Regions from separate parts of the Homo sapiens genome. Here regions 1, 2, 3, 4 and 5 are each reported to be linked to region 6. The links are microRNA targets in miRTarBase. Many come from high-throughput screens and were not tested one by one. Region 6 holds a microRNA gene; each other region holds the end of a gene's coding sequence.

Region 1 (5,114 bases), not on the chromosome of region 6:
GTCTTTTTATTTCCTGATAATTCTACCTAGAGGTTTATCAATTTTATTGATCTTTTTTAAGAACCAGCTTTTGTTTCTATTGATTTTCTCTATTATTTATCTGCTCTTATATCATTGTTTCTGCTCTTTATTACTTCTTTCTTTCTGCTTATTTTGGATTTAGTTTGCTCATTTTTTTCTGTTTTCTTAAGGTAGAAGCTTAGATCATTGCCTTGAGATGTTTCTTCTTTTCTAATGAAATAATTTATTGCCTTAATTCTCTCTAAGCGCTACCCATGCATTTTGATATGCTGTGTTTTTGTTTTCATCCAGTTCAAAGCACTTTCTAATTTATTCAGTCATTTCTTCTTTTATTCATGGGTTATTCAGAAGTGTATCACTTAGTATTCCAATATTTGGAGATTCTCTAGGTATCTTTCTATTGTTAACTTATAATTTAATTCTACTGTAGGACATACTTTGCCTACCCTTCCATACTTTGAATACTTTTCAATTTATTGAAACTTGTTTTGTGGCCTACAATATGTTCTACTTGGTAAATTTTCCATGTGCACTTGAAAAGAATATACAGTATTCTGCTGTTCCTAGGTAAAGTGTTCTATATCAATTGTCATGTCCTCTATATCCCTACTGATTCTGTTTACTTGTTCTACCAGCTGAAATCCTGAACTACAAATGTGGAGTTAGTTCTTCTTTCAATTGCATCAGTTTTTGCTTCATGTACTTTGAAGCTCTGGCATAAACATTTAAGATTGTTAGGTATTCTTGATGTCTTGACCCCTTTATCATTATGAATTGTCTCTCTTTACCTCTGTAAATTCTTTGCTCTGAAATCTTCTTGTCTATTATTAACATAGCTACTCCAGCTTTCTTCAGATTAATGTCTGCATGGCATATCTATTTCTATCCTTTTATACTTTTAATTTATCTGAGTCTTAGTATTTAAGGTGGGCTCATGTAGACAGCTCATAGTTGCATCTTCTTTTCTAGCCAATCTGATAATCTCTGCCTTTTAACTGAAATTTAGACCTTCTGTAATTAATGCAAATATCAATATCATATGGTTTAAATGTATTATCTTTGTTCCTTCTTTCCTCTTTTCCTGTCTTCTTTAGAATTAAATGAGTAATATTTATTACATTTACTCTCCACCATACAATAATTAGAGCTACTGTATTAGCTCTAACTCTGTTTGTTAGGTTTTAGAGATAACTCAAGTTTTACTTCATCAGTCTATTGTCAAATACCATTATGTCATTTCACAAATAGTCTAAGAATTACAAAAGTAAACTTCTATTTTCCTCCTCCTTTGTTTTTTTGCTAGTATTATACATTATACTTTTACATAAAATATCATTGCCATAGTTTGCCTTAAACGGTTATCTATTAGTGCTTAAAAAATTTTAAAGCCTATATATTTATCCACATATTTTCCATTTCTTGTGTTCTTTCTTTCTAAAGATCCAAATTTCCATCTAGTACCATTTTCTTTCTGCCTGAAAAACTTCCTTGAACATTTTTTATAGTGTAGATCTGCTAGTGATTAATTCTCTCAGCATTTGTTTGGCTGAAAAGTCTTTACTTCACCTTCATTTTTGAAAGATACTTTAAAGATACTGCTCCATTGCCTTTTTGCCTTCATATCTTCTGATGAAAAGTGTGCTCTCATTCTTATGTTTCTTTCTCTGAATGCATGTGTCATTTACTATCAAGTTTTAAGATTTTTCTCTTCAATTTAATTAGGACATGTCATTGTTTTGTTTTCATGTTGCTTCTCCTTAGGGTTGGTTAAGATACTTGGATCTGTGAGTTTATAGTTTTCATCAAATTGGGGGAAAATTTGACCATTATTTCTTCAAATATTTTTCTATCCCCCTCCATTCTTCTGAGAAGCCACTTACATATATATTAGACTGCTTGATAATGAAACACAAAACTTATACGCTTTTTTCTTTGTACTTAATGTTGGATAATTTATATAGCTATATATTCAAGTTCATTAATATTTTCTTCTCCAGTATCTAATCTCTTAATCCTATTCAGTGTATATTCTTACTTCAGATATTGTATTTTTCATCTCTAAAAGTTCTATTTGGGTCATTTTTATACCTTCCATTTATTTCTTCATTATGTTTTTATCTACTACTTGAACGATATTTATGGTAGCTGATCTACTGTATTTGTCCATTTTCACACTGCTATAAAGAACTACCTGAGACTGTGTAATTTAGGAAGAAAGGAGGTTTAAATGATGCAGTTCCACAGGCTTAACAGGAAGCATGGCTAGGAGGCCTCAGGAAACTTACAATGGCAGAAGGCAAAGGGAAGCAAGCACATCTTACCATGGTGGAGCAGGAGACACAGAGGGAAAAGAAGGAAGTGCTACACGCTTTTAAACAACCAGATCTCATGAGAACTCATTCACTATTATGAGAACACCAAGGGGTGTTCTCCATATCCATGGAGAATACTCCATATTCATATCCATATAGGTGTTCACCATAATCCAGTCACCTCCTATCAGGTCCCTCCCCCAACACTGGGGGTTACAATTCAACATGAGATTTGCGTTGGGACGCAGAGCCAAACCATATCATTTACTAATGCCATCATCTGTCATTCTCAGTCTATTACCATTGACTAAAGATTCTCTTGACTGTGGATTGCCTTTTCCTTTTTTTTTTCATGCCTGGTAACTTTTTATTAGATGCTAATCATTGTGAATGTTACACTTTTGGTGCTGGATTTTATTGTAGTTTTTATTTTTATTTTGATGGGTTTTCTCCCCTTGGATGCACTCAAGTTACTTGAAATCAGTTTGATCCTTTCAAATGTTGCTCTTAAACTCTGTTAGGGCAAGTCCAGAGTAGTCTTCAGTCTATTCCCATCTCCCTAACCTAACCCTAACCCTACTTTGCCAATATTTTGCTGAAGACTCTACTCAATGATCCATGTACTATATTAAAAGATCCACTATTGTTGAAACACATATTCTACCCAGCCTTGTATGAGCTCTGAGGAATTTTTCTTTGTTTTTCTTTTTTTTTGAGACAAAGTCTCACTCTGTTGCCTAGGCTGGAGCACAGTGATGCAATCTCAGCTCACTGCAACCTCTGCCTCCTGGGTTCAAGCTATTTTCCTGCCTCAGCCTCCCAAGTAGCTGGAATTACAGGCACCTGCCCATCATACCCGACTAATTTTTGTATTTTTAGTAGAGTCGGGGTTTCACCATGTTGGCCAGGCTGGCTTCGAATGCCTGACCTCAGATAATCCATCCACTTCGGCCTCCCAAAGTGCCAGGATTACAGGCATGAGCCACCAAGCCCAGCCCTCTGAGGAATTTTTCATCACTCCTTTCTCCTTCCTGTCATTTTTTCTCCAGCCTCAGGCAATTTCCTGCCTCGATTTTGTTTTCTTCCTTTAAGGAATGTTCTATTTTTATTTGGCAGATAAAATGAGGTTACTTAGAGATCATCTTGAGTCTCTCAAGGCTTATTTTTAAGCTTTCTTAAAATTGGTATACATTAGCCTTTAGTCTAGCTCCAGTTTGGATCTCTTATGAAAGTACAACCTTTCTGAGTCTCTACTCAATGCCCCACATGTTCAAGATCTTTCCACTTTAACTGGTTGGCATTCAAACTTCTCCCAGCTCAGTGTGAGCTCTGAGAGTTTTTCCTCTTATAACTCCCTGGCAGTTTTTCTTTTCACCTAATGCAACACATATGCATCTACGTCTATTTAATTATAAGTTAATAAACTTTTCATTTTAAAAGGCTTATATGTATATTTTCAGAAGCAGCAAGGTAGACAAAAAACACTGGTGAAAATTGTATCTGATCCTAAAGTCAGTCTTTTGGAGAAGACAATTTCATTAGATGGGTGCTGACAGCCATCGAGAGAAAAGGAAAGCAGACTGAGTTTCTGGGGACTACTGCAAGAAGAAAAAGAGAACATAGAGAGCTGGCCTCATCCTCAAAAGTGATCCCACATCTAACCAAATTAAAAAATCCACATGAGGTTTCTCAATACCTACTGTAAACAATTTATCAAGATACCTGGTTAGCACTTCGTGTACAAAGTGATAACCAGACGTCATTTTTCTTGGAAAAATCGGGGTTGGAACCACAGCTTTGACTTCATTATCAATATATTTAACCAACAATCTGGGCTCCTCTATGGAAGTGGCTTAAATGCCTTGCAGATTAACCATGGACTAAGAACTTTCTTTGATCTTGAATACTGTTCCAAAACACACAACCCCAGGGCTCCATTTCTCACCCAATATAATCATTCCTGAGCAGAGCATTATCAAATAGTATCAAGCCAGGAAACTGGCTTAGGGTACTAAGGTGAAAGGATTTAGCCAAGTAGCAACCCAAATATGAACAAGGAAATGAGCTTAAGACACATTAAGCATTTAGAATAAGCCCCACCTGACTGATGACCATGGTGGATTAAGCTTCATCTTTAATTATTGATATTAATGATCTACTGTGAGCAAGATGATCTCTAAGGTACTTTCTAATTGTGAAATATTATTCTGTCTTATGTATCAGACATAACTGATAGCCTATCACTACATGTGCTTTACTGACTACATTTCTGTCGGTCTTACTAAAAGTAAAGAGCTCAACTGTTGTCATCATCTAAAGGTGCCACCACTTTTATTTGTTTACCAGATCACCAGATGATACTGGTCCATTACCCTTGACCTAGTCAGACCTTGACAAAAGACTTAATGGTGCTATTTAGGATGCATTTCCTTGCTGCTTTGTGCAGGTGGCTTTCTCGTTGTTGCATAAACAGTGACGGGAACATCAGTTATTGTCAGGCAATGACTTCCAGGGCACCTCCGGAGTTGCCTGAATAAAAAAGCAGATGACATGTAGTTAGATACTAAAAAGAGGAAATATTTTTTTTCAGAGCACCAAAGTTTGATTGTATATTTAACTGTTTTAAATCACTTTGAAATCTCTGAATGTCATACAATGAGTACAACATGGTGATGCTGACGAGGCACCCATTTTAGATGGATATAACAAAGAAATTGTGGCCTCTGACGTACATATTTAATCACAGGAAATTCATATATTCAAAGATAATCCTCCGGATGT
Region 2 (5,000 bases), not on the chromosome of region 6:
TGGGAATATGAAGAAGTGTAAAGGTGACAATTTTCTTTACCCGCTTGTTAAAATATTTAAGTACCAGTTAACTAGCCAGCCAACATGGAACGGGTATAAAGACCCAGTCTCTGCCTTGAAGACCTACCATCTAGCAGATGGAGAGGGACATGCTAACAAATAGGGGCGCTAAGTTTTTAGACTGCTATGACAGAAGATTTAACAAAGGACAGTGGGAGAACAAAAAGAAGGGGTTAAATCTACCTGGTGGTGGAGTATGTCAGGAAAGACTTCTTCAGATTGGCAATTTGGCCTGAATCTAGGAAAAAAAATGAATGGGGACAGGTGGGAGTAAAAAAGGGAACCATAGACAGGAGGAGGTGTGTAAAGATGGACAGAAAGCATGGTATGATAGACACTACAAAAATGAGGAAGTGCCGAGACAGTGGACAAAAGTTTCAAATGACAAGATTAAATACGATAAAAGAGTTCCCTGGATTTGGGAAATGGGAGGTTATCCTTGAACTTTGCTAGAGCCATTTCAATGGAGCAGCAGGTCAGAAGTCTGGCTGCTATGAATTTAAAAGGATGAAAAGAATAAAGAAAAATATTTTAGAGTAAATGAAAGACAAAAAAAAGGTGACAACAAGTTTAGACTATTTCTTGGAGCCATTTGCCTTTTTACTTTCAAGCATACTAGTTCAGGTGTGACAAGGGTTACTTACATAGGATTTACATTTCTATGAGAAAACGACTCCCAACTGCCATCTTAAAAACTTAAAAACAAGTTTTTAAACACAATCCATTCTTAATTTAAAGGCTGCCTATATTATTTCAAACAATACAGGCAGCCTTTTAAATATATGTTTAACAATTATTAAACTTGTTAATTATTAAATATTAATTATTAAACATGTTAATATATGTTTAATATGTTTACATAATGTTATTTTAAATATAAAATCAACATTTCTACAGATTTACTCTGCCATCACTAACTTTTCTTTCATATCCTTCAAAATAAATAACACCTGTAATTGTTTATAGTAGAAAAGGTGCTTTATTTTACATATCATTGGTACACGATACATAAAACTGCCTAAAATCAGTCTTGAAAAACACAACAGTCAGTCAGTTACACCTTAAAGGGTCAAAGACCAAGTCTATTTTGCAAGCTACTTCATTTATGATCAAATGACTACAATAATTTTAAATACTAATAATGTCTTCATATCCAATGTTACAAATGATTTTTGTTACAAGGGCTGTAATTTTTTAAAATAAAAATATCTTTAGCTATAGACCTTATTTCTAATCAGAATGAATCTTTGCTAGTCTACAAGTCTTTGAAATAATAGATCAACAATTTCACCTTCCTATAGATAATTGTATTTATGTAATTGGGTAATGAGGCAGGAGTCCTTCATACATGCAATCAGATTATTTCAATTTTTTAAAAAATGCAGATAAAATTGAGTTTATATATACCCTATGTCTAATTAAGTTGCCAAAGAAGTTTATTAAACTAAAATGAAGCCAATATGATATTTTAGAAAACATAATTCTGAGAGCATGCAACATCAAAAATATTTTTACTACTTATGAGAGCCAGAGTTGCAGAACACAGAAGAGGACTGGCACAAAGTCTTGTTATATTTGAACTGCTTACCTGACTGGGAAGAGTAAAGAAAGTCATTTAACTCAGTGCAAATCCTATGAAAAATATCTGCATGATACAGCCTACTGCTACACAAAGGGATCTTCATTTAGAAAATGTGCAAATCATAAGAAGCTAAATGCACTTCTCTTGCTATTTGCTCCAATTCATTCTATTCATCAGCACACAGCTCTAAGATCTCTTATTAACTACTAATGTCAAAGCCACAGAGATTTCTTAATGGCATTTTTTAGTCAGCAATCCCTTATCACAGAGATAAATATGACTGGTGCTTAATGTACAAATGCCAAAAAAAAAAAAAAAATAGAATCTGGGCTAAGTCTCAGGGCAAAAACATTTATGATTTTAACAAATCCCTCAGTATAGAAAGACTTCTCTTCCCTCTAAACAGTTAAGTCATATGTTAGAACCACAGGTTCAGAATCACCTCCTGATCCAGAAGAGTGGAGGCTTAACTGAATCAAATACTAAACAGGTATAAATGTGCACACTCAAACAAATATTCTATCCTTTGCTTAAAATCAACTTATTCCTTGTTATCAGGAGAAGGGCTTCAAGATGCACGTTGTTAATTAATGCAGAGAAGAAAGGGTTAAAAGCCAAACTTTTTCTATTAAAGCAATAGATCTTTAAAATAACTGGGCTTGAAACATATACTTTTAGTATAACTTTCCATTCATATTCTTTTATAATTAAGTATACACATATACACAACAAACCCTAATATTTAATATGTGCAAAATTGCTTACCATGTATTTTAACTTTGGTTAAGTATTTGTTTAGCCTATATCAGATACATTACAGAAGCTAGACAAATGATTACAAACATAATAATGAGGTAAGTTAAAATTCTACTAGTGCAAAAAGCAAGCATATGCCAAAAGCAAAGCATATGAATTAAACAAATGCAGAATGAAGCTCTCACCAAGGGCATTGCTGGGATAACAAACCAGAGAAGCTCCTTGTAAACATTGTAAAGTACACATTTAAAGAGTAAAGATTCATACAGCCACAAAAAAGGTATTCTAACAACACCATAGTAGTGCATTTATTTTATCTTTAGAGTTTGGAAACCACTCATTATGTGTCTAACAATTTGCATATTTTCTTCAAGAGAAACTTAATTAGTGAGACACATTAATTACAAATACTGTAGTATAAAAATCCCAGTTCTTTACAAAAATTATATATTAAAATATTCTATACACTTTAAATTAGTAACTGGAACACACATATATATCAATTCTGCACAATTAAATCCATCTTTGCTGGGGGGTATCATACATGAAATTTGAGGACATAGCTACTCAGTCAACCTAAACTGGCATAAGGTTATGTGGTATAAAAAAAGATAGACCTGTGCCCCTGCAGTTATTGAAGCTCTTAGTTTGAAATATCTTTTCTGCAATTATTGCTCTGTATATTAATTCCAGATTTAAATAGGCAGTGGAACCATGAAATTCCTAAAAGGTTTAAAACAAGTTACCTGTAGCAGAGTGTTTATAATGCCTATCTGTATCTTTAAGGTTGTAATGGAACCTGAGTTAGCTGTCTAATGCTTATATTTTCATAGTAAAAAAGTTTATACAATTTCAAGGTAAAAACAATGCAAAAATAAAACATTTAGAGCATTTACAAAAATCTTACAAATGTTTAAAACACTATTTTAAAACTTGTGTCCTGTTAAGGTGCTTGTTTTTTTCTCCAATAGGAGGACATATACTTTAATTTTGAATTCAATTATGAAGATTTTAATTTTAGCAAAAGCAAAATTAGAGCCATTAAGACAGATGAAAATGTTCAGGGACATACTTCACTTCTACTAAAAACACAAAACCTTAGTGCTGAAAGGGACCTAAAAGATAAACTGCTTTAACTCCCTCATCTGTTATGAGGAAAATGAGGGCCAGATAAGTTAAGTGCTTTGGCCAAAAATATATTCAAATATATTGGCCTGGTAAGAATCAAGAAAACTCATTGTTCTTGTTGTATTTTACCATGATTCTTGGAAAATAATAAAAGTTCAAAAGCAGTTTCTAAACTTGCCTCTTTTTTAATTTCTTAAGCTCTGTGCTAACTGTAAACAAAGAAAGGAATCAAATAACTATTAGAATTATTATAGTATCACACATATTATCCAATAGAAGACAGTTGTTAGAGGAACACTGCTCATATAGAATAAAGATAGAAGGAGTACTCAAAGGTAGGACATTTACAATGTAGAGAACATTTACTATATAAGACAGCATAGTATACAACAGCCAGTTACCAGAATCATCTCAATAACTCTAGGATGACTGGGTTACACAGCCCTTATAAAAGATATTGGGGTAATAAAGCTTTCTAGCTTTTATCTTAATTTCACTGTTTTTCTTTATAAAAGAGCTATATCTGTAAGGAAGAACTCATATACTAATTTTCAGAGAGTCTTTGCTTCTTTTCTTTTATTTGGATCTATAATTCAGCAAATACATTTTAAGAACAATTTACAAACTCAAGTTCATAACTGCTGGAAATACAGCCAGAGAATACTCTTTTAAATGACAAATCTTCATAACCAGTTACTAATAAATAATCATCATCACAATAGCTTCAGTAAAAAAACCAATTCAATTTAAAGGTGCTTTCTTATTGTTACCTTGAAGCCACCGAACTTGTGTAGCTGGTCCATATCCCTTTTCATTCTTTGCTGATATCCTGAACACAATGGCAGGCCTGGATGTATAATCAATATGTGCATTTGCAAGTTGCCCAGCAGTTACTATACATGATGTCTTAAGACCACAATAAATCCTCATGAACACAAGTTGACTTGGATTATCTTGTATCTGTGCTGTGCGGATAGCCAAGTAGGCTGAATATTCCAAAATATTTCCAGAAGGTGAGGTTGGAGGTTCCCAGGAAAGGTGGATACCTTCAACATTCTTGAAGGGGGGGGGAAAAAACAGGTTAAAGGTTCTTAAGTTTCCTCTGTTATCACTTATTATGTTGAGTCTATCTTTAGAATACAAAATGTTCATTTTTACTAAAATAATTGCATTAGATGTTACATCTTTTATTGTTGATTTTTAAAACCTACCTCATTTGGATCTACAATGTTTAATTTCATGCTTGCTTTTCAAAAACACAACTAAGTTTAAATGTCTGCCTGTAATATCCCAAAACAGGGATTTTTATTTCCTAAACAATCTCTAGGGAGGGACAGGACATTAGGATAAAATATAATCCAGTTTCGAGTGCTCTATTAAAATTCTCCAGCCAAATGTTTTCGTTCCATAATAACAAGAACAAATTTAGAAGCATACCAGATTTCCCTGCCTTTCTGTGATTTGGATGCTGTAA
Region 3 (5,114 bases), not on the chromosome of region 6:
CCTTCCCTGATACCCCGCCAGCAGAAAGGGTGGTAGTCCCGGCCGAGAGCTCCCCGACCAGCACAGGGCGAAGGGATGTTGCCTGTGGGGCCCGGGGCGCAGGTTCAGGCCCCCGCGGCCCCGCAGGATGTTCGATGTGGGCGGGCAGCGCTCGGAGCGCAAGAAGTGGATCCACTGCTTCGAGGGCGTGACCTGCATCATCTTCATCGCGGCGCTGAGCGCCTACGACATGGTGCTAGTGGAGGACGACGAAGTGGTGCGTGCCAGGCAGGGCCTGTGTTCCAGGGGGGCGAGGAGGAGCTGCTGGTCCCTGGAGGCGGAGACCGCGCGCTGGGCTGGGGGAGGGCACGGGAGGGGATGCCTGTCCCGGGCGGCCTGAGGAGGCCCGGAGGCGTTCAGCAGGCCCATCTGGGGCAGTGCGGGGAGCCCTCTGAGAGCCAGCTGAGCGGGAAGCCCCGCGTGCCCGGGAGCCCAGAGAGCAGGTGCTGCGGGTCGGACGCTACCCCGGGTGCCCAACAGCTGCTGCCCTCCTCAGAACCGCATGCACGAGAGCCTGCACCTGTTCAACAGCATCTGCAACCACCGCTACTTCGCCACGACGTCCATCGTGCTCTTCCTTAACAAGAAGGACGTCTTCTTCGAGAAGATCAAGAAGGCGCACCTCAGCATCTGTTTCCCGGACTACGATGGTGAGAAGTCCGCAAGGCCGCCAGGCGGCGCCCCCGCCCCACGATCGCGGCGCGCACCCCCCGCACGGGGAAGGAAGGGCTGAGCAGAGTGAGAGCTCCCGCCCCCGCAGGACCCAACACCTACGAGGACGCCGGCAACTACATCAAGGTGCAGTTCCTCGAGCTCAACATGCGGCGCGACGTGAAGGAGATCTATTCCCACATGACGTGCGCCACCGACACGCAGAACGTCAAATTTGTCTTCGACGCTGTCACCGACATCATCATCAAGGAGAACCTCAAAGACTGTGGCCTCTTCTGAGGTAGGTCGCTGCCCTCTCCAGGCTCTTGCCTCAATACCCCAGCCCCGTCCAGCTCCCCACCCCACACCACGGCCCTGGAGCCTCACCCCCAAATCCTGGAGCCTACTGCCTCCAGGCCCCACCCCAGCTCCTCAGGCTCCACCCCACCGACAGAGGCCCCGCCCCACCCCACAAGTCCCACCCATTGAATTTCTTTTGGCCCCGCCCCAAGACCTCAGGTGTCACAGCTTCCAGGGCCGCCCCACCACACACAATGCCTAAACCCATTTATTTTGGGTCTCAGGGATGCTGACTGGGTTTCCTTTTCACAGGTGCCTGAATTCATGCGTGTCAGTCACCCTGAGACCTGGTAGCCCTAGCTGCCTTGCAGCCCCAAACCCCAGGACCCTATCAGCCCCCTGGGACTCCCTGGCCCCAACCTGCCACCTCACCAAAGCTCTGAGCCCTGCTAGCCTTGAGGCGCGGACCCTCCCCCATACCTCCCACAGTATCCCAGCGCCTCATGCCCCCAACCCCAAGCCCTGCCCTTCACCGCCCGGCTGCACTGGCCTCTAGGACTCACAGCAGCCAGCCCCAGCTAGGAACGGGCAGGACTTGGGGCAGCTGAAGCTCACGGTGACTCAGCAGTGCCCAACTGACCAATCTCCCGCAGCTCTCCTGCCCCTGGGGGCCCACGACTCACCTGGTGGGCCTGGGCTCAGCAAACAGCCCTCCCTCCCAGTATTTCATCAAGGACAGGGAATATCCCTCCCACACACAGGCCAGCTGCTCACCCTGCCACCTCCATGTGACAAGTTTGACACCTGTCTACCCAGAGCCAGTGACTGTCCCTCCCAGCAGCCTCCAAAGGGTCCAAAGTCCAAGCTAGCTCTGGCCTGTGTGGCCCCCACATAAATAAATTAGTGGGGAGGGGGCAGACCTGGGGGCCCTTGGGTGCCAGAGTGAGACACAGCAGGACCCTTCCCCAAATACTAGGCTCAGAGCAACCTCCAGCCTTCTCCAGCAGGATCTGCTCCCTGTGTCCTTGGACAGCAGATCCACACACCACTTCCCCACCCACACACAGTACCCTGGGCTGGTTGGACAACAGGATGGTGTGTTAAGGGGTTAAGGGAGGGTACTGTTGACACCAGCTATGGCCAATAGCTGGGCTGTCCTGAGGGGTGGCTGGGGACAGAGTCCAGCTCCCTTGGATCAGCCCAGAGGATTCAGGATAGGACAAAGGCCCTGGCTGTGCCCAAAAGGGTCTACCTCAGGTGGGGTTACAAGCAAACCTGGGTGACCCTCTTGTCCCTACCAGCAGCTTCTCTTGCCCCTTCCATTCAGGGTTCCCTGGCAGGGGAAGCTGAGAGCCATGGCTGAACTATCAGGGACAAAGGCCCATGTCCCCACATCCCTGCTCCCTCCTTCCTCATCCAGCACCAAATCTTTGCTTATGTCCACAGGCCAGGGCCTGTGCTGCAGTCGGGGACAAGGAGCTTCCGTCTGGCAAGGCCGGGGCACAATTTGCACTCCCCTCAGCTAGACGCACAGACTCAGCAATAAACCTTTGCATCAGGCTCCAGCTGTCCTTTCTTGGTGGAGGACTTAATTATCACAAGTCATGGGCATTTATTAAGTGCCCAGTGCTGGGTTGGGCATGAAGTGGGAAGATGGCCCCTCCCAGGAAGAAGTACCTGGCCTGACAAGGTGGGGCACTCTTGGGGGTATGGGACCAACTCATGGCTTTTCACGGGAGTTGAGGAGAGAGGAGCTGTGGAAAATATTCACTGGGACAGTCTTGGATCAAGAGGGAGTTTTGAGGTGGAGGCTCATTCTGGCAGGGACCGTAGTGTCTACCAGCCCCAGAAACATGGGCTTATGGCCACAGGAGTTCAGTGGAGCAAGAGCAGGGGAGGAGAGACGTGGACAGGTGCCCAAAGCCAGTCGGAGGGCCTGGGCTTTCTCAGAAGGTGATGGAGAGTCTTGGAAGCCCTCGAGGCAGGAACATAATTGCAGGGCTGGGATTAGGGTGAGGGAAGTGAGGCACACTCACCTTGGGTGCAACATTTAAGGCGATGCCAAAAAATTTAGTAACCAAGGTAAATAATATTAGGATAATATTTTTAAAAATCAAATGAATGCAAAACCCCACAATGAATGAAATATCAAAATCCAACAGAGGATCAAACAGAGGCATGCTAAGATATATTGGGGCTTGAAGCAAAGGGAAAACTATTTGTTGCTATATGTTTGTAGGGATTTTTTGCCAGTTTTAAAAATACATGTATCATAAAGTTTACTATCTCAGCCACTTGCCGGTGTATAGTTTGGTGGTGTTAAGTACATTCATAATGTTGTACAACCACCGCAACTGTTCATCTCCAGAACTCCTTTCCTCTTGTAAAACTGTAACTCTGTACCCATGAAAAAATAACCCCCCATTCCTGCCTTCCCCCGGCTCCTGGCATCCACCATTCTACTTTCCATCTCTATGAATGTGACTGCTCTAAGTGCCTCAGATGTGTGGGTCCATGAAGTCTTTGTCTTTTTGCAACTGGCTTATTTCACTTAGCATCATGTCTTCAAGGTTTATTCATGTGTAGCATATGGCAGAATCTCCTTCCTTTTTAAGGTTGAATAATATTCCATTGTATATATTCCACACTTTGTTTATTTATTCATCTATTGATGAATGGTTACATCTGCCTTTTGGCTATTGTGAATAATGCTGCTATGAACATGGGTGTACAAATCTCTCTCCCAGCCTCTGTTTTTTATTATTTTGGGTGTATACCCAGAAATGGAACTGGCAAATCATATGGTGAATCTTTTTTTTTTTTTTTTTTTTTTGAGACAGAGTCTCTCTCTGTCGCCAGCCTGGAGTGCAGCGGCACAATTTCGGCTCCCTGCAACCTCCGCCTCCCAGGTTCAAGCAATTATCCTGCCTCAGTCTCCTGAGTAGCTGGGACTACAGGCACACGCCACCATGCCCAACTAATTTTTGTGTTTTTAGTAGAGACGGGGTTTCACCATGTTGTCCAGGATGGTCTCGATCTATCTCTTGATCTCAGGTGATCTGCCCACCTCGGCCTCCCAGAGTGCTGGGATTACAGGCGTGAGCCACTGCAACCGGCCTCATATGGTGAATCTATTTTTATTTTATTTATTTATTTATTTATTTATTTTGAGACGAAGTTTTGCTCTTGTTGCCCAGGCTGGAGTGGCAATGGCATGATCTCGGCTCACTGCAACCTCCTCCTTCCATGTTCAAGTGATTCTGCCTCAGCCTCCCAAGCAGCTAGGATTACAGGCATGTGCCACCACACCTGGCTAATTTTGTATTTTTAGTAGAGATGGGGTTTCACCATGTTGGTCAGGCTGGTCTCGAACTCCCAACCTCAGGTGATCCGCCTGCCTTGGTCTCCCAAAGTGCTGGGATTACAGGCGTGAGCCACTGCACCTGACCCCTTTTTTTGAAATGAAGTCTCACTCGGTCGCCCAGGCTGGAGTGCAGTGGCACGATCTCAGCTCACTGCAATCTCTGCCTCCCGGGTTCAAGTGATTCTCCTGCCTCAGTCTCCCAAGAAGCTGGGAGTATAGGCACCCACCACCATGCCTGGCTAATTTTTGTATTTAGTAGAGATGGGGTTTCACCATGTTGGCCAGGCTGGTCTTGAATTCCTGACCTCAAGTGATCTGCCCACCTCGGCCTCCCGAAGTGCTGGGATTACAGGTGTGAACCACTGCGCTCAGCCTACTTTTAATATTTTGAGGAACAGTTTTCCACAGCAGCTGTACCATTTTACATTCCCACCAACAGTGCACAGGTGGTCCCCCTTCCTCTACATATTTGTGAACTCTTGTTATTTTCTGGGTTTTGTTTTGTTTGAGATGGGGTCTCGCTCTGTTGCCCAGGCTGGAGTGCAGTGGCACAATCTCGGCTCTGCAACCTCTGCCTCCTGGGTTCAAGCAATTCTCCTGTCTCAGCCTCCCGAATAGCTAGGACTACAGCTGCATGCCAGCATGCCCGGCTAATTTTTTTTTTTTTTTTTTTGAGACGGAGTTTCATTCTTGTTGCCCAGGCTGGAGTGCAATGGTGTGATCTCAGCTCACTGCAACCTCCACCTCCTGGGTTCAAGCC
Region 4 (5,000 bases), not on the chromosome of region 6:
TTTACTCTTTGACGCTCCTTATTCAGGCACTATGGCTGCATTTTCCTGGGATGAATTCTGATGTCATTTTGGGTCCTGCCTTATAAATGTGGTAATCACAAAGTCCAGTCCCTCTTGGAGTATGTATGGTTCATCCCTCACTCTGACACACTTTTGAAAGCTTTTGTAAAGTACAGGATCATAGCAAAAAGTATTTATTTTAGGTCGCTGGCTTGAATCCAAGTCTAATAAAGGTATTTGATAAGTAATCACTTGTACTTGTTCTGTTGGCAGTAGAAGTGTCCCTTGGGTTGTTCTGTGTGTGTGTGCATGCTCTGTGTCCCTCAGTGGTTTGTCTGAATCACTTGTGAGTCAGGAGCCTTATCTTCTATTTATTTTAGTCAGCGCTCCTAACAAATGGCGTTGATTAGATATATGTTACGTCAAATTTAACCCTGGTGCAACAAAGCCGAGATCCCTGCATGGTCAGTCACTGGAAGTCAGAAGCAGCCTGGTCAGACTCTGTGAGTCAGGGTGTGGCCATGGGGCGTTTGCTATAAGTTCTTGGTCATATCTGGTCAGTAGATGAATTTCGGATTTGACTTTTCAGAACCTCTTTCTCTGGTGCATTTGTCAGGGGAGACTTTAGAATTAATCAGAGAGAAGAGCTGGCTGTTCTTTTCTCACTCCCACCCCCATCCCTCCTCTCCTGGATCATTATTCAGAGTAAACACTGAAAAGAAAAAGCATGAGAGATTTGTTGGGATTGTTGTGGTTTGGTGTTTTTACAAGATAATCTGATGTTTAATATTTTCATCTATACTTTAAATATTCATTCTGGGTTTTTATTCTTCCTTTTCAGTTGTTTGAGAACTTCTACTTTGGCTCCCTAAAGCTGAATTCAATTCACATCTCTCAGAGGTTCACCGTAGACAGCTTTGGAAACTACGCTTCCTGTGGACAAATTGACTTCTCCTGAGGTGGATCTTGGAAAGCACTAGAAACTAAACATCTTCACCAGGTGCTGAAGAAAAGTGTCTTCGTTTTAATTGCCAAGCAGGGATGTGGACATTTGGATGGTGACTTTCCTGGGTGGTTCCCCATAGATTCACCATTGCCTCTAATGGTGTCTACACCCGTCATACTACCAGCTGAGATGGTGGTGGGCATAAGGAGAATTTGTGCCTATAACCCTTAGTGTGTTCTGGTTTTTTTTCTTTTAATTTTTAAATTGTCGTAAAATACTCATAAAACATACTGTCTTCACCATTTTTAAGTGCACAGTTCAGTAACGTTAACTGTTAATACATTCATAATGCTGTGTGGCCGTCACCGCCGTCCATCTCCATAGGCTTCTCAGCTTGTAAAATGGAAACTGTACCCATTAAACAGTAATTCCCACTCCTCCCAGCCCCCGCAGCCACCATTCTGCTTTCTGTCTCTCTGGTTTTGACTATTCTCAGTATCTCATATAAGTGGAATCATACAGTGACTTGTCTTTTTGTGACTGGCTTATTTCACTTAGCATAATGTCCTCAAGGTTCATCCATGTTGTGTCAGGTGACAGGATTTCCTTCCTGTATTATACATATAATGGAATGTTCCGTTACATGTGCGTACCACACTCTGTTCCTCCATCAGTGAACACTTGGCTTGCTTCCTCTTGACTATTGGGAGTAGTGCTAATACAGACACGGGGGTGCAAATATCTCTTTGAGACTCTGCCTTTAATTCCTTTACCACCCAGAGTTTTATCTTTAGCAAAATAACCATTAAAGTTGTTTGCCTTTTACTTTGCTTGGTCTATCATTTTCCTACCAAAGTTTGTCCTCTTAATATTTGTTGGATTCCTGTTCCTTCACCCCATCCCCACCCTCATCTTCCCATGCCCCTGATGGAGTTGCAGTGTTGCAGCCCTTTTTTGTTTACTTTTCAAGGCAGCAGCAAAAGAAACTGATGATATCAGCAGGACTGTGCAGAGTTCCCTGGAAGAATGTCAGCCACAGGAGGCCCTCACTCCTCCCTCACCACGGACCAGCAGAGGGAGGCGGGAATGCTGGGGAGCCCCAGCCTCCCACCCCTGCCTCCTCACATTCTTCCTCCCTCCATGTCCTCTCCTTCTTCTCCTTCCTTATTCTTGCCTTGATTCTTTCTCTCTTTATATTCTTTAACTGCACTTCTGAACTCTGTGTTAAGTTGCTACATTGTGAGGACTGTGTCTAACAGTGAGATTTATTATTGGGACTGCACAAATCACTTGTGAATAAAATGTTTAACGGTGTTTCTGTTAGTATGATCACATAGTTCACATAGTTTGAATTTGACCCCTTCCTGTGTTGGGATACAATGTTGCCCTCACTTATTTACCAGCATAGCTGGATCATTCATGGAGGACTTACATATTAGTACCTGCAAGGTTGATTTTTTTTTTTTTTTTTTTTTTGAGACGGAGTCTCGCTCTGTCGCCCAGGCTGGAGTACGGTGGCACGATCTCGGCTCACTGCAAGCTCCGCCTCCTGGGTTCACACCATTCTCCTGCCTCAGCCTCCTGAGTAGCTGGGACTACAGGCGCCCGCCACTGCACCCGGCTAATTTTTTTTTTTTTTGTATTTTTAGTAGAGACGGGGCTTCACCTTGTTAGTCAGGATGGTCTCAATCTCCTGACCTCGTGATCTGCCCGTCTCAGCCTCCCAAAGTACTGGGATTGCAGGCGTGAGCCACCGTGCCTGGCCGCAAGGTTGATTTTTTTCCCAGAAGGCCTCCTCTTTCTACGGATATTCATTTTCTATACAAATTGAGATTTTACTTCACCTCAGATTGTTGTTAGGTGGCACTTGGGAATGAGTGCTCCAGGGACAGTGCTGAATTCTGAAGCTGACTATGGAGTTAATGCCCCATCTCATCTTGATGTGCCTCTCTCTCGGTTTCTTTCTGACAAGCCATTGGGCAACCTCAGCCAGGAAGTAAATGTCACTTCTTTTGAGTTTCTGAGACTTATGACTTAACATTTGTAGGAAACTTTTTTTTCTAAGTTTTTTGTCTTTGGAAAATTTAGCTTTATATATTGAATACCAAATTCTTTTTTTTTTTTTTTTTTTTTTGAGACAGGGTCTCACTCTGTCACCCAGTCTGGAGTGCAGTGGCGCAATCATGGCTCACTGCAGCCTTGACCTCTTGGGCTCAAGCTATCCTCCCACCTCAGCCTACCGAGCAGCTGGGACTACAGGCGTGCACCACCATGCCTGGCTACTTTTTATAAAAAAATTTTTTGTAGAGATGGGGTCTCACTGTGTTGCCCAGGCCGATCTCGAACTCCTGGGCTCAAGACATCTTCCTGCCTTGGCCTCCCAAAGTGTTAGGATTACTGCTGTGAGCCACCACACTGGGCCCAAATACCAAATTCTAAATAGAATTGGAAATTGTGTTATTGAGGATTTAGTGATTACTCTTCCCTATGTCTTGTTAAGTAATTCTTCTCAAGTTGTTTGCCTTTTTCCCTCTGTTTCTCTCACCAGTTATACAGTGGGGTTTTCCAGAGGCTCTATGACGCGACAGCATCATCACTCTGGTGGTTAATGGAATGTGTGTTTGTGTATTTCTGAGTTCTCTAGAGTTTTGTAAGTTGGTAGGTATTGGTAGAATTGGAAAATTTTTAACATTTAAATTTTAAAAAATTCCTTTTTTTTCACATGCTGTGGTAGGCAGAGATAAAATATTCTCTCATGAAGTCTGTATTCCAATTTTGGGGACAGTATAGCTCTAAGGAAATACAGTTTTCAGTGCTGTTGTGGAAGAGGGAGTAACAGTTTTGATGTAGAACTTTTATGAAAAAGCAAAATGGTAGAGAGCAACAACAGTAAAAGGGTTAGAGTTAAGGTTCCCCTCTCACCAAATGATAATGGGGTAAATGTTGGAGGATTTGCTGCTGCTGTGCTTACAATCAAACCTTCCTTCATATTACTGTTTTGTAATTCATTCTACACTGAAATAGTTCATTGTACCTAACACTGCTCCAGCCAGCTTTTGAGGCACTGACTTCACCCTCAATTTCTCTTAAGAGGAAGAGGGAAAAAAATCTCTCACTCGCTACTTCACAGAATCTGTGTTGTTATACATGGAACTTTGTTATGGAGAGTAATTTTTATTTTAGACACATTGTAAATGTTTCTTACAATGATTATTTTTAAAGCAAGCTCTAGAGTTTCCAAAACTGGGCATTGAGTAGAATCCAGCATCGTAATAATTCAGATTTGGTTCCTGTTTGCCCTTGTACTGTGCTGGAGCTCACTGTCCTGGAGCTCAAGGGAACCCACTGGCACTAGAGGTGTATTGAGTTGAGTCAATGGAACACCTGTCAGCTTCCATCTCGATACCATAGGGAGCATGAATGTTCAAGCTCTTGCTGCTAGAAGTGATGAAAGTGGCTGCCGTTATGGTTTTTATTAATAGCTTTTTTTTTTTGTAAAATGTCCTTTTAAATGAAGACAAGTTTACTTTATGAAAAATAATCAAGTTTATGCTTTGTGCTTTTGTCACTGTGTGTTATACTTCAATTTAAATCGGAGGCTGAAACCAGAGGTTCGCTTGAGGCCGGGAGTCCAAGACCAGCATCGGCAAACTAGTAAGACCCCATCTCTACAAAAATAAATAAATAAATAAATAAATAAATAAATAAATAATAAATGAAAATAAATGTTAGCTTCCAGAGGTAACTACTCCCTATACATTTAGACATATATAAAATATGAGAAGTTAAGAAATTTTTCACAAATAATAGCTAATGTTAGTGGAGTGTTCACATTTGTTATTTTTTTGTGCATTAATTCAATCTTTACAATAGCCCACTTAAGTAGGTAATATTGTCCCCATTTTACAAACTGAGGCTTAACAAGGTTAAGAAATTTTCCTTAAAGTTGGGGGCAGTGGCTCACACCTGTAATCCTAGCACTTTGGGAGGCAAGAGGATTGCTTAAGCCCAGGAGTTCAAGACCAGACTGGGCAACATGGTGAGACACTGTCTC
Region 5 (5,114 bases), not on the chromosome of region 6:
TGTAGGGAGAACCCCCTGAAACTACTGCTACGGAATAAAAGATGAAATGCTCCTGATTATTGTAAATACAAAGTTGCATGCAGGATTGTGTAAAGACAATGCCAGGTTGGACTGCCAGTATGAGCCAACAGCATGTAATGTGCTTCCCCCTGCAGATAGCCTATGAATGGATCTGCAGTCAGGGAGGTTTCACATCATCACCAAGATTCCTATCCCAGAAAAGCAGATATTCATAGCTCTGGGAATGGAATGCGACCCTTGTGGAGAGCCTATAAATGGACGCATGGGGGGGCGCCTGTCCATATGGATAAGATAGGGCTATAAATGCCCTCATCTTGCCATGGCTCTTCTAGGCCTCTTTAGGGTTAAGGCATACTCCCTTCTGAGAATTTCTGGTCTAACCAGTTGTCTAGCTTCACGTCCTATTTCTATGGATTGTCTGTAACCAGCTTTTGCTGCAACTGTTACTGCTGATTAATATCTTGCTAATCATAGGTTATGGAAAGAATGTGTTTCTGTTTTAAGGCTCTGTTAGAAATTACTGATGCACACACTATATTGTAAATTCTTATCCCTGTATACTGTACTTCTGCATACAAATGTTATGTTAAAGCATTACTTCATCCCCACGTGACCATCTCACCTCATAATCAAATGACCCTAAATTCCTCACTAACCTACCCCTGCCCTCACTAAACTTAATAATAAATGCTGGTATATCCAGCGCATTGTTGGCACCGCAGAACCAGAAGGCGGTGACCCCCCTGGACGCGGCTTTCACTATCTTGTGTGAGTCTATTATTTCTCAACCTACCAATCTGCCTGGGAACAAAGAGAGAGCCCCGTTGCATTGCGGGCTGCTGGCCAGATCCCGCAATAACTTGCCATTGAGGGAAAATATTTCTCAAGTTTAAACCAAAGCAAACAAAAAGCACATGATGATATATAGTCCTAATAAAATTTTATTGAGAACTAGTAAGTCAAATACTTTACAGAACATAGAAATACATATGATCCCAGCCTTTCCCATTAAATGACAACATAACATTGGGGTAGTTTCCCTGAATATCCCAAACAGTTTGCTTTATAATTAGAGAAACAGTTCGTCTACAGCTCAATAGTAGAGAAAACACAGGAATGAGGTGCTCTTACTTAGCGGAAGCAGAAATGAAATTGGAATTCAGTGTAAATAATAAAGGACTACAGATGAGTTCTAGCAGCCAAAGGAGTATACATGTAAATAGTCACTCTTCACATTTTCTATTTCTAAAGTAGCTAGTAAAAGGCAGGGCATCGTAAGATCAGACAAAAATTAACCTGAGGACATAGTAGCAGAGTATGTCTCTCAATTCAGTTATTTAGGAAATGTTAATAAAGAAAGTAACCCTAGATCCACTTTTACCTAAAACTCTACCTACCATGAAGGTTTTTGATGCCAAATAATTGGAACTGACATCAAAGATGAAAAGAGAGCCACATGACTCAGGATTAAAGACTGACAACTCAGGCCACACCGCCGTCCATGGTATCTATGGAAATAGGATAATGTTAACTTTTTACATGATGAAAAGTTAACTATTTGCAATTTCTAAATTACTATAGAAACAGAAACATGTGACAGGATAAATGAACACTGCTTGATGACCTTTGACAACCTTTGAAGGTTTTATTACCTAGTCCCTGTATAGAGATAAGAGATGATGGTATTGAGTTTTCTAGGAACCAACTTCTGGGAAAGATTTTTAAAGAAGAAAAATATCTGAGAGAAAAATACAAACTAGAACTGAAACAATGATGCCACTTCCTTTTAAAACTAAGAAGCCTAGTATAAAAGTTTCTTTAGTTACTACCATGTTGTTAGGGGATTGTCTCAGCGTTGTAGGCTTTGCCTGAATTTAAAATCCCATCAAAACTTTTTTGCTCTTAAGCATAAATACAACAAATAGCATACATATAAAATTGTGCCAGTTTAGTAAGTTTTGAAAAGCTTAAAAAAAAACCAAACTCTAATTGTGTTTGTGTGGATGAATTTGCTAACTGATGACAGTAGCTAACCCATTTATGCTGGGGGTTGCAATTTTTTGTGTGAAAAATCAGACCTTGGCAATGACTTTGAGCAGTAGGATGTAAATGACTCCCACAAGCTTAGCATTCCAATAATGGAACACTAGGCATAAATGGGTTAACAAGAATCTTATTTGAAATGTTCTTCTCCCTGCCTTGAAATCTTCCTGGGGTTAAGCATTGCTATCACGATGCTTGGAGAACTGTGATCAAGTCTTCTCTGGCTCAGAGAAACTGTTATTTTTCCCTTGCTTAGTAACGCAGCTAAAAGCATAGGCACAGTAGAGTAAGACATTTAACTAAACCAAATGAGCTTTATTCTTTCAAGCTGAACACCCCAGGCAAAGGCAAATTAGCTTTGCTGTGCACTACTTTTACTTCTTACTGTAAGTGCTGATATCGCTGATTGAAAACTTTCACAAGAAAGGCAGAGCATGCACATGCTTACCAGCAGCACTTCAGCAATCTGAGAGGCACAAGGTAGTGCCAACTTACACAAGTGACAGAAGGAGGAAGCTGATCCTGGAAACTGAGCAGTGGGCTGCTTTTTAAATCCTACTGCCAGTGGCCTTTAAAAGGTCAGTTTCCAATAATATTAGCTCTTTTGGTGCTAAACAGGAGATAATAGGAGACTGCTACCTGCAGGAACCAGTACACACTCAGTGGGGATTTGGTTTGAAGTTCCAATAAAAATAGCATGTTTTTGTGACCAAGAGAGCTGTGAAATAGGCACATTTAAAATACTTAGACCCTGTTATTTTAAAGCTACAATTTTTTTTTGCAAAATCAGTTGCAAAGAGACAAAACAAGCCAGGCAAAGGCAGTAATAGAAAGAGTAGAAGCTGATGAGTCAAAACACTTGAACAGAATTTGAAGCACCAGAGAGTCTTTATCTACTACGGAAAACCTGATTCTGTGGTCTCAGAAACTGATGAATTGTTAAGTCTAGGATACGCAAAGATGCATTTGTTCTAAGCATGAACTCTGGATAATACCTCCTCAATAAAAAGCATTTCTATTAAATGCTTAGTTTAGTGTTTTTGTTCAAGTTATTGGTTAGATAGTATTCCCTTTCTCATCTCCCCTTTTTAAACAGAAGTAGAATACTGTACAATTTAGTGAAAAGACCAAAGTTCAGATAAATTGATAGGAAGGAAAATATTTTATGGCTTATACCAAAGAGTCAGCACTAATGCATAGTCACTGTAAAAACCCAAGTTAAAGTTTAGAAAGTCAGTCAGAGTGGACTGAAATCCTAGGTTAAAGCATATTCATACATAGAAAATTGGCTTCCTGATCTTATTTGAATACTGAAAAACACACATATTTAAATAAAGAGTTCCAAAAAACTCAGATTATTTTAGAGAAAACACAGACTGTTATTGTTAGCTTATCTTAAACTAACCTTCAACTCAGAATTTTCACAATGATCATCATGTTTTATAAGTTTTTGATTAAAAATGTTGGCTTCTGAAGGCTGTATGCCTTACCGACAAAAACAGGCCAATCTGAAAGTATGTTTACCTCTAGTCCAAATAGGCATCAAGAATTTAAAAAATGATATTTAGGTACCAAGTCCAGATTGTAACTCTTGGAATTTTTCTCCTGGAAGCATTTAGTTATATTTCTGTCCCCTTTCAAAATGAACCACCTAGAGAAAAGCAAGTCAGAAAATTGTCTGCCCTCCAGTTGGAGGAAAAATATTAAAGAGAAGTGAAGTGTAATACCCAATAATAGTCACATATTTATCTTTATCTGTATTGAGTTTCTTTTAAACATTTTTAGAACAGTAACAGATGGTTATATTCATAAACTTAAATAAGATTTCCTCCAAGTTCTGGAATATATGTATACAATCTCAAAACACTGTACATATCACTCACTCTCCCTTTAGGAAGAAATGGAAATTAAAGTTAAAAGACTTCCTTGGATACTTCTAAGTAAAAGTAAATGATAATGGAAGGGAACTGAATGAAAGATAAATTCTGAAAAAAGCTAACAAAATCAAGTCCACAGTTTGACTCTTTGTTTCCTTGGAAAGCAACGGAAGCACTTAGCTTGGGTTTGAATATACAGAAAGGGTCATGCAGTGAGTTGCAGGTGGCATGCTATCCTTTCAGAGTTCAAATGCAGGGAACCTGGCTTTTGTGGGGACTAGCAGGTCAGCCAGGAAATATATTGTTCCAGCCATTCCTGAAGAAAGAGAAAGAGGCAAAAGTTATTATACCAAATGACTCCATTTCATAGGATGGTTCTTTTTCCCCCATATCTTTATTGACAAAAAAAGTCACAGCATTTCAGTCTATTCAAACACACAAACATCAACAAAGGGTGCCCACCAGTGATGGCCTCGTCCCTAAGGTCTGGATCAAGGCCGCACTGGAGGGTGGGGGTGTCCTCTTGGCCCTCCTCCTTCGGCATCCTATGGCTTTTTCCTCACCTCACTGACACCCCCCGAGAGCAGTTACAACTCTGCAAAAACGAAGGATGGCTCCATTTTTTAACATTAACAACATTACAATATTAACGGCAATGATTTAAATGAAGTGTGAATCTATCTACGTTTACATACACTGCAGTTCAACATTAGAAGAGATCACTAGTGAGGTGTTCAGCCTTATATCCCGGTGGAAGACTGGAGAAAGAATGGAGCCAGACAAGTTCAAGTCACAGCCCTGCCATTTACCAAACATAAGCTCCTGAGCCTCAGTCTCCTCGGCTATGACATGAAGGTAGTAGTGCCTGTATGTTTTTGCTGAATGATTTATGAGGGCGTCTGCAAAATGCCCAACATGTGCCTGGCTCCATAAAAGGGAGTCACCTGATGACTACCAGTATTGGGACTGTGGTATTACATGTGCTAATTGATTTTTAATATCGATTTAGCATATTAGGAAATAAAAAAGTAGTTTAAGAATAATTATAAAATTTTTTGCTAAAACTTAAATACATTAATTACCAAGCAGAGAAGTAGATGCTGATATTATAGGGCAAATAAATAAAGTGTACAAAATACCTTCAAAGAGAGAGAAAGGGGTGTCTGGTGTTCT
Region 6 (5,114 bases):
ATGTTTTTGTCAGAAGAAAACATTTTGAACACATAGCATTCAAAATACAGATATTGAAATTCCTGAAATTTCTTCTTTTCCCTGCTTTTTCTTACCTTGTAATCACTGATGCTGCCCATGGTGATATAAGGAGAAATGCTACATAGAACCAAAAATAAGAAAAAGGAACCATCCGGCAACCCAGTCCAGAGTCCTATGTGGCTCTGAAAATATAAAGGGTAGCTTAAACTAGTGAATATTTGTTAAATGAAACAAATAATTATAGCCACAAAAATGCACTTTTTGAAATGTTGAAAAATCAAAGTAAAGGTGTAGCTCATTACCATCTAGGCACGAAGGTGGGAGGGAAAGTGACTCTGATCTTCAACTCAAAGAACAAAGAGAAGTCAAAAGTCATTTAGGACCTACTTCTGGGGATATTTCCAAAAGAATTGAAAGCAAGCTCTCGAAGAGATACCCTCACATTCATATTCATACCAACAATACTCACAAGTGGAAGCAACCCAAAAGTCCAAATTAATGGATTAACAAAATGTGTATGTATATACAAACAATGGATACTATTCAACCTTAAAAAGGATCACTTGAGGTCAGGAGTCTGAACCAGCCTGACCAACATGGTGAAACCCCATCTCTACTAAAAATACAAAATCAGCCAGGTGTGGTGGTAAATGTCTGTAATCCCAGCAACTTGGGAGGCTGAGGCAGGAGAATCGCTTGAATCTGGGAGGCAGAGGTTGCAGTGAGCAGAGATCGCCCCATTGCACTGCAGCCTGAGCAACAAGAACAAAACTCGGTCTCAAAAAAAAAAAAAAAAAAAAAAGAAGGAAATCCTGTCACATGCTACAACATAGACGAACCTGGAAAATATGCTAAGTGAAATAAACCAGTTACAAAAAGACAAATATTCCACTTATATAAGGTTTCTAAACTAGTAATATTCATAGAAACATAATAGGATGGTTATTTCCAGGGGATGGGGGAGGGGGAAAGCTAATTGGCATCGAGTTTCAATTCCGCAAGACGGCAAAGTTCTGGAGATGCATTTCACAACAATGTGAATATACTTAATACTACTCAACTGTACACTTGCAAACAGCTAAAATGGTCAATTTTATATCATGTATTATTACCACAACAAAAAAACAATAATTCAGAAGTTAGGACCTCTGATGAACATATAATTCAGGCCTGAGTAGCACGTCTTTCTGAGCAAACCCAGAGATGGAAACCTCAGTAGCTGGGTGGATGTGTTCTGAAGCACAGAACCAAGAAGAAAACTTGTTGCTGCTTGTCTTAACTTCAGGGAAAGGAACTTTAAATCACTACCCCCAAATCAGCATCCACTTGAGGCTAGGCCAAGTGGACACTCTAGCAGCATCTAGGACCACCTCATGGATATAATTACAGGATAACAGCATGAGCCTGTCTCAAAATAATTCCACAATTATTTAACTTTATTTAAGACTTTGAGGGCTATGTCTATAAATTCTGTTTTTCATCATAGGAATGAGGGAGGAAAGGTGTGTGCCATGGGGAAGTGGGAGTGGGGAACAGGTTTCTAATAGAGTAGCTATGGGCTTCAGTCCATTTTGATCCTGAGCAAACACAATGGCATTAGGAAGCTAATAATTCAGAAGTTAGGACCTTTGATGAACACATAATTCAGGCCTGAGCAGCATGTCTTTCTGAGCAAACCCAGAGATGGAAACCTCAGTAGCTGGGTGGATGTGTTCTTTTGAAGGATAGCAGCATAAGCCTGTCTCAAAATAATTCTGCAGTGAGACAGGTTCATGCTGCTATCGTTCCAAAGAGGAAGGGTAATCACTGTCTCTTTCTGCTACTCCTCTGGTTCCACTTTCTGGAGAATTCCCTTCAGACACCCCTTCCCTCGAGTCATCCTGTGCAGCAGACCTGTTTACGTGATCAGTCGGTCATACTCAACTCACGGAGGTATGTGTCTGTCACGAACATCTCAAGTACTGTATATTTCATCCCCATTGTTCCCATGGCTTACAGAAAACCTGTGCTTGCATATACTCCCAGCACCACTGATTCAGTGAAGCCAAAACTGAGCTTCACACTTTTGTCACAAAATGGACTTCCCTTTGGATGGCTTCATTTCTAATCCTGCTTCTTGATGTTTCAGACTTCTGGTGTGAAACAGTTGGAGTCAGCTTTGAGACACCCCTGTTGGTATCAGGCAGGGTCTAACCAGAAAACCATGACTACGTTAAGTTCTTAGAGTGCAATTCCTTATGACATGGTTAGGTGGGTGATGAGCATCCCACAAAGATGGTGAAGTGAGAAGCAAGCTATTGTTGCTTCTGGGCTTCAGGAACAGCAGAAGGAGGTGATGTGACTGGAGCCCAATGTAGGGGGTCCTCTGCTCTTCTGTCTCCCACCACTGCTTTCTAGTGTCCAAACTGTCTGAAGCCAGACTATAGCCAACTGACACAGAATCCAATGCAGCCTGTGTGTATTAGGCTCCCTCACAACATAGAGCAACTATGAGTAGGTGAATAAATAAATCAACAGATAGCCCCAGAACTGGCAGATTCTCCTTCATATTAGTCTGTCTACTACACATTTAGTCAATGGAGGGTCCACTAACTAATTATAATAGATTTATATGTAACCAGGGTTACAAGTTCTCCTGATTTCCAAGTCAGTGTTTTCTTTTTTCTGTTTCTCTTTCTCATACACTTCCACAATCAAGTATGTACAACTTTTCAAAACATTGCCTAGAAGACTGACAAAATATTGAAAAGTATTCCCTCACGATAATTATCTGATAACTTGGCAGGAAAAAAAAATCCTGTTTTGTTTGCTATAACCCATTGAAAATATTAGGATAAAATAATAATTTTCAGGCTTAACAATCACTTATGGATATTTAAAAGCTAAAGAGAGAAAACATAGGCTATTTGTCCAATTCTTAATTGTTTAGACTCAGTAAATCCAATACTTACAAGAGGAAATGGGCTTGACTCAATTCGAATATGTTGTGTGTGATTAAACATTTGAAGTAGCCCATTGCTGATAATATTCATAAGAATTGGAAAACAGTGCAATCTCTTGGTATTACACACAACTGAAAATCTATAATCCTTAAAACAGAAACAAATAAATAATGTTAATGCTAAATTCTTAAAGAACAAAGGCAAGGTTTATGTATAAAAGATCCTAACAGTGCCACATGCTTGTTGTGTGTCCATCTTCAAGTGAACTAAACTTTCTGAGCTTTACCTTCCTCATCTATGAAAAGGAAATACTAAATGGGTTGTTATAGGGCTTAAATGACACTCTATTCATGTACATTAAGCTCTAGCACAGAGTCAGCATACAATCAATATGAATTTTTATTTGTATTACTAATTTTAGATAATTTTGTCTCCATTTTGCTGATGGGGAAATTTCATTTAGTAGAGTTTAAAAGTCTCCCTGACAAGGAGATGCTGTCAGTTTATGATGAAGAAGCAAAGGAAGATTGGGCATGGTGGCTCACACCTGTAATTCTAGCACTTTGGGAGGCCAAGGCGGGCAGATCACTTGAGGTTAGGAGTTTGAGACTAGCCTGGCCAACATAGCAAAACCCTATGTTTACTAAAAAATACAAAAATTAGCCAGGTGTGGTGGCACACATCTGTAATCCCAGCTACTTGGAAGGCTGAGGCAGAAGAATCACTTAAACTCAGAAGGCAGAGGTTGTAGTGAGCTGCGATCACACCACTGCACTCCAGCCTGGGTGACAGAGCGAGACTCTGTCTCAAAAAAAAAAAAAAAAGCAGCAGCAGCAGCAAAGGAATGCTGGCCTTCTGGATAGGAGATAAGCATGGAGTTCATTAAATATTCATCCTTACCCTGCCAAAGAAGCATTTCCCCACTTCCTAAAGCAATCTTTATATTTATGTACTTCATGTTTAGGAAAATGTTCATTAATCTATTAGAAGGTTTATTGTTTAAATCTTACCACTAGTTCATGTAGTAAATATGTGAGGTATGTAACGTAGTAGCTGACAAAGTAATTTCCCAAAACTGGCACAAAGCGATTACATTTTTTATAGCATATTTAGTTTATGTAGAACGGAATTCAGTAATACAACTTCAAAGGCTTTTCTTTTTTAAAAATTTACTTTGTAGCATGAAATAAAGAGGGAGCTTCACTTAATTAGGCCCCTTGCTTTTATTAGAATGCAAATAAGACTGAAGAGTTCTTAACATTAAGATGTATTTTTAAACCGAGCACGGTAGCTTATGCCTGTAATCCCAGCATTTTGGGAGGCCAAGGCGGGAGGATCACCCAAGGTCAGGAGTTCCAGACCAGCCTGGCCAACATGATGAAACCCACTCTCTACCAAATATTCAAAAATTAGCTGGGCATGGTGGTGCCTGCTTGTAATTCCAGCTACTCTGGAGGCTGAGGCAGGAGTCACTGGAACATGGGAGGCAGAGGTGTAGTGAACCAAGATACTGCCACTGAGCTCCAGCCTGGGTAACACAGCAAGACTCTGCCTCAAAAAAAGTATTTTCAATAGTCTTGTTCTCTAATGAATCTCTATGGCTTGACTCTTTTACCCAAATCGACATATGCTAAGGTAGCAGACTGAGAATACTTTTTTCTCAGTTATTTCGTGTAGATATTATAGTATTTAATGTATTTTCTCAATATATAAAAACAAACTTTATTCAGGTAGTTAGCTACTGAATAAAATTCCTTAAATCCATAATTATATTGGTTGATAATTATAAGCTATAATATTTTTATTGAGTTTAAACAGTACAATTAAATTTAGATCCTTTCAAATGTAAAAGTTATCTAATTCAAAACAAAACTAAGATAGAAAATGTTTTACAAAAACTTAGGTAAACTTCACAGTTTATTAAATAACAACCCAGAATGTTTTTCTGAGTCAAGTTTCTGTATACTAGCTTTAATTTCTGCAGTTTTAAAACAGCTAAAATGTAGTACTTTTTGTTTTTTTCATAAAAGCAAAAAGGCAAACATACCTTTTGTTTACCAGAAACTATGATAGCTCCATTGTATGAGAGGCCATCAGTACCATTTCTGTTTTCAAAGTCATCTACTTCCAAAAGTATATTTTGATGCTTCA

The links. Region 6 holds the annotated microRNA hsa-miR-4524b-5p (AUAGCAGCAUAAGCCUGUCUC, at 1,746-1,766, shown strand). A microRNA usually pairs through its seed, bases 2 to 8, with sites in the 3' UTR of a target mRNA and lowers its output. Matches are read on the target gene's strand: a 7mer-m8 pairs with bases 2 to 8, a 7mer-A1 pairs with bases 2 to 7 and ends in A, and an 8mer does both.
Region 1: the mRNA of FAM229B is a reported target of hsa-miR-4524b-5p. The part of its 3' UTR that is shown has no 7-base or 8-base seed match.
Region 2: the mRNA of HCFC2 is a reported target of hsa-miR-4524b-5p. The part of its 3' UTR that is shown has no 7-base or 8-base seed match.
Region 3: miRTarBase lists GNAT1 as a target of hsa-miR-4524b-5p. Seed matches in the 3' UTR shown: 7mer-m8 at 3,701-3,707.
Region 4: the mRNA of ASCC1 is a reported target of hsa-miR-4524b-5p. The part of its 3' UTR that is shown has no 7-base or 8-base seed match.
Region 5: miRTarBase lists LANCL1 as a target of hsa-miR-4524b-5p. Seed matches in the 3' UTR shown: 7mer-m8 at 1,215-1,221.

The regions. Positions count from the first base shown.
Region 1 is chr6:112,100,418-112,105,531 of GRCh38, reverse strand. It overlaps FAM229B (family with sequence similarity 229 member B), which reads right to left. Exons shown (of 4, transcript NM_001033564.3): 4 at 2,742-4,862. The coding sequence ends at 4,745. Among named protein-coding and RNA genes, the nearest start is that of FAM229B, 15 kb to the right of the region's middle. RefSeq lists an enhancer at 4,500-5,114.
Region 2 is chr12:104,102,541-104,107,540 of GRCh38, reverse strand. It overlaps HCFC2 (host cell factor C2), which reads right to left. Exons shown (of 15, transcript NM_013320.3): 15 at 1,017-4,582. The coding sequence ends at 4,268. Among named protein-coding and RNA genes, the nearest start is that of NFYB, 33 kb to the left of the region's middle.
Region 3 is chr3:50,193,966-50,199,079 of GRCh38, forward strand. It overlaps GNAT1 (G protein subunit alpha transducin 1), which reads left to right. Exons shown (of 9, transcript NM_144499.3): 6 at 127-256; 7 at 536-689; 8 at 800-991; 9 at 1,303-3,731. The coding sequence ends at 990. Among named protein-coding and RNA genes, the nearest start is that of GNAT1, 4.9 kb to the left of the region's middle. RefSeq lists enhancers at 1-434, 387-446, 435-950, 1,003-1,534 and a silencer at 757-816.
Region 4 is chr10:72,093,292-72,098,291 of GRCh38, reverse strand. ASCC1 (activating signal cointegrator 1 complex subunit 1) reads left to right here. Exons shown (of 10, transcript NM_001198800.3): 10 at 842-2,260. The coding sequence ends at 958. Among named protein-coding and RNA genes, the nearest start is that of SPOCK2, 7.2 kb to the right of the region's middle.
Region 5 is chr2:210,430,307-210,435,420 of GRCh38, forward strand. LANCL1 (LanC like glutathione S-transferase 1) reads right to left here. Exons shown (of 10, transcript NM_006055.3): 9 at 5,081-5,114; 10 at 945-4,257. The coding sequence ends at 4,181. The region is part of intron 2 of LANCL1-AS1 (LANCL1 antisense RNA 1); the gene reads left to right. Among named protein-coding and RNA genes, the nearest start is that of LANCL1, 44 kb to the right of the region's middle. RefSeq lists an enhancer at 1-215.
Region 6 is chr17:69,097,825-69,102,938 of GRCh38, forward strand. It overlaps MIR4524B (microRNA 4524b), which reads left to right and starts at 1,718; the gene lies at 1,718-1,832. It overlaps ABCA6 (ATP binding cassette subfamily A member 6), which reads right to left. Exons shown (of 39, transcript NM_080284.3): 21 at 5,011-5,114; 22 at 2,973-3,110; 23 at 96-203. It overlaps MIR4524A (microRNA 4524a), which reads right to left and starts at 1,808; the gene lies at 1,740-1,808.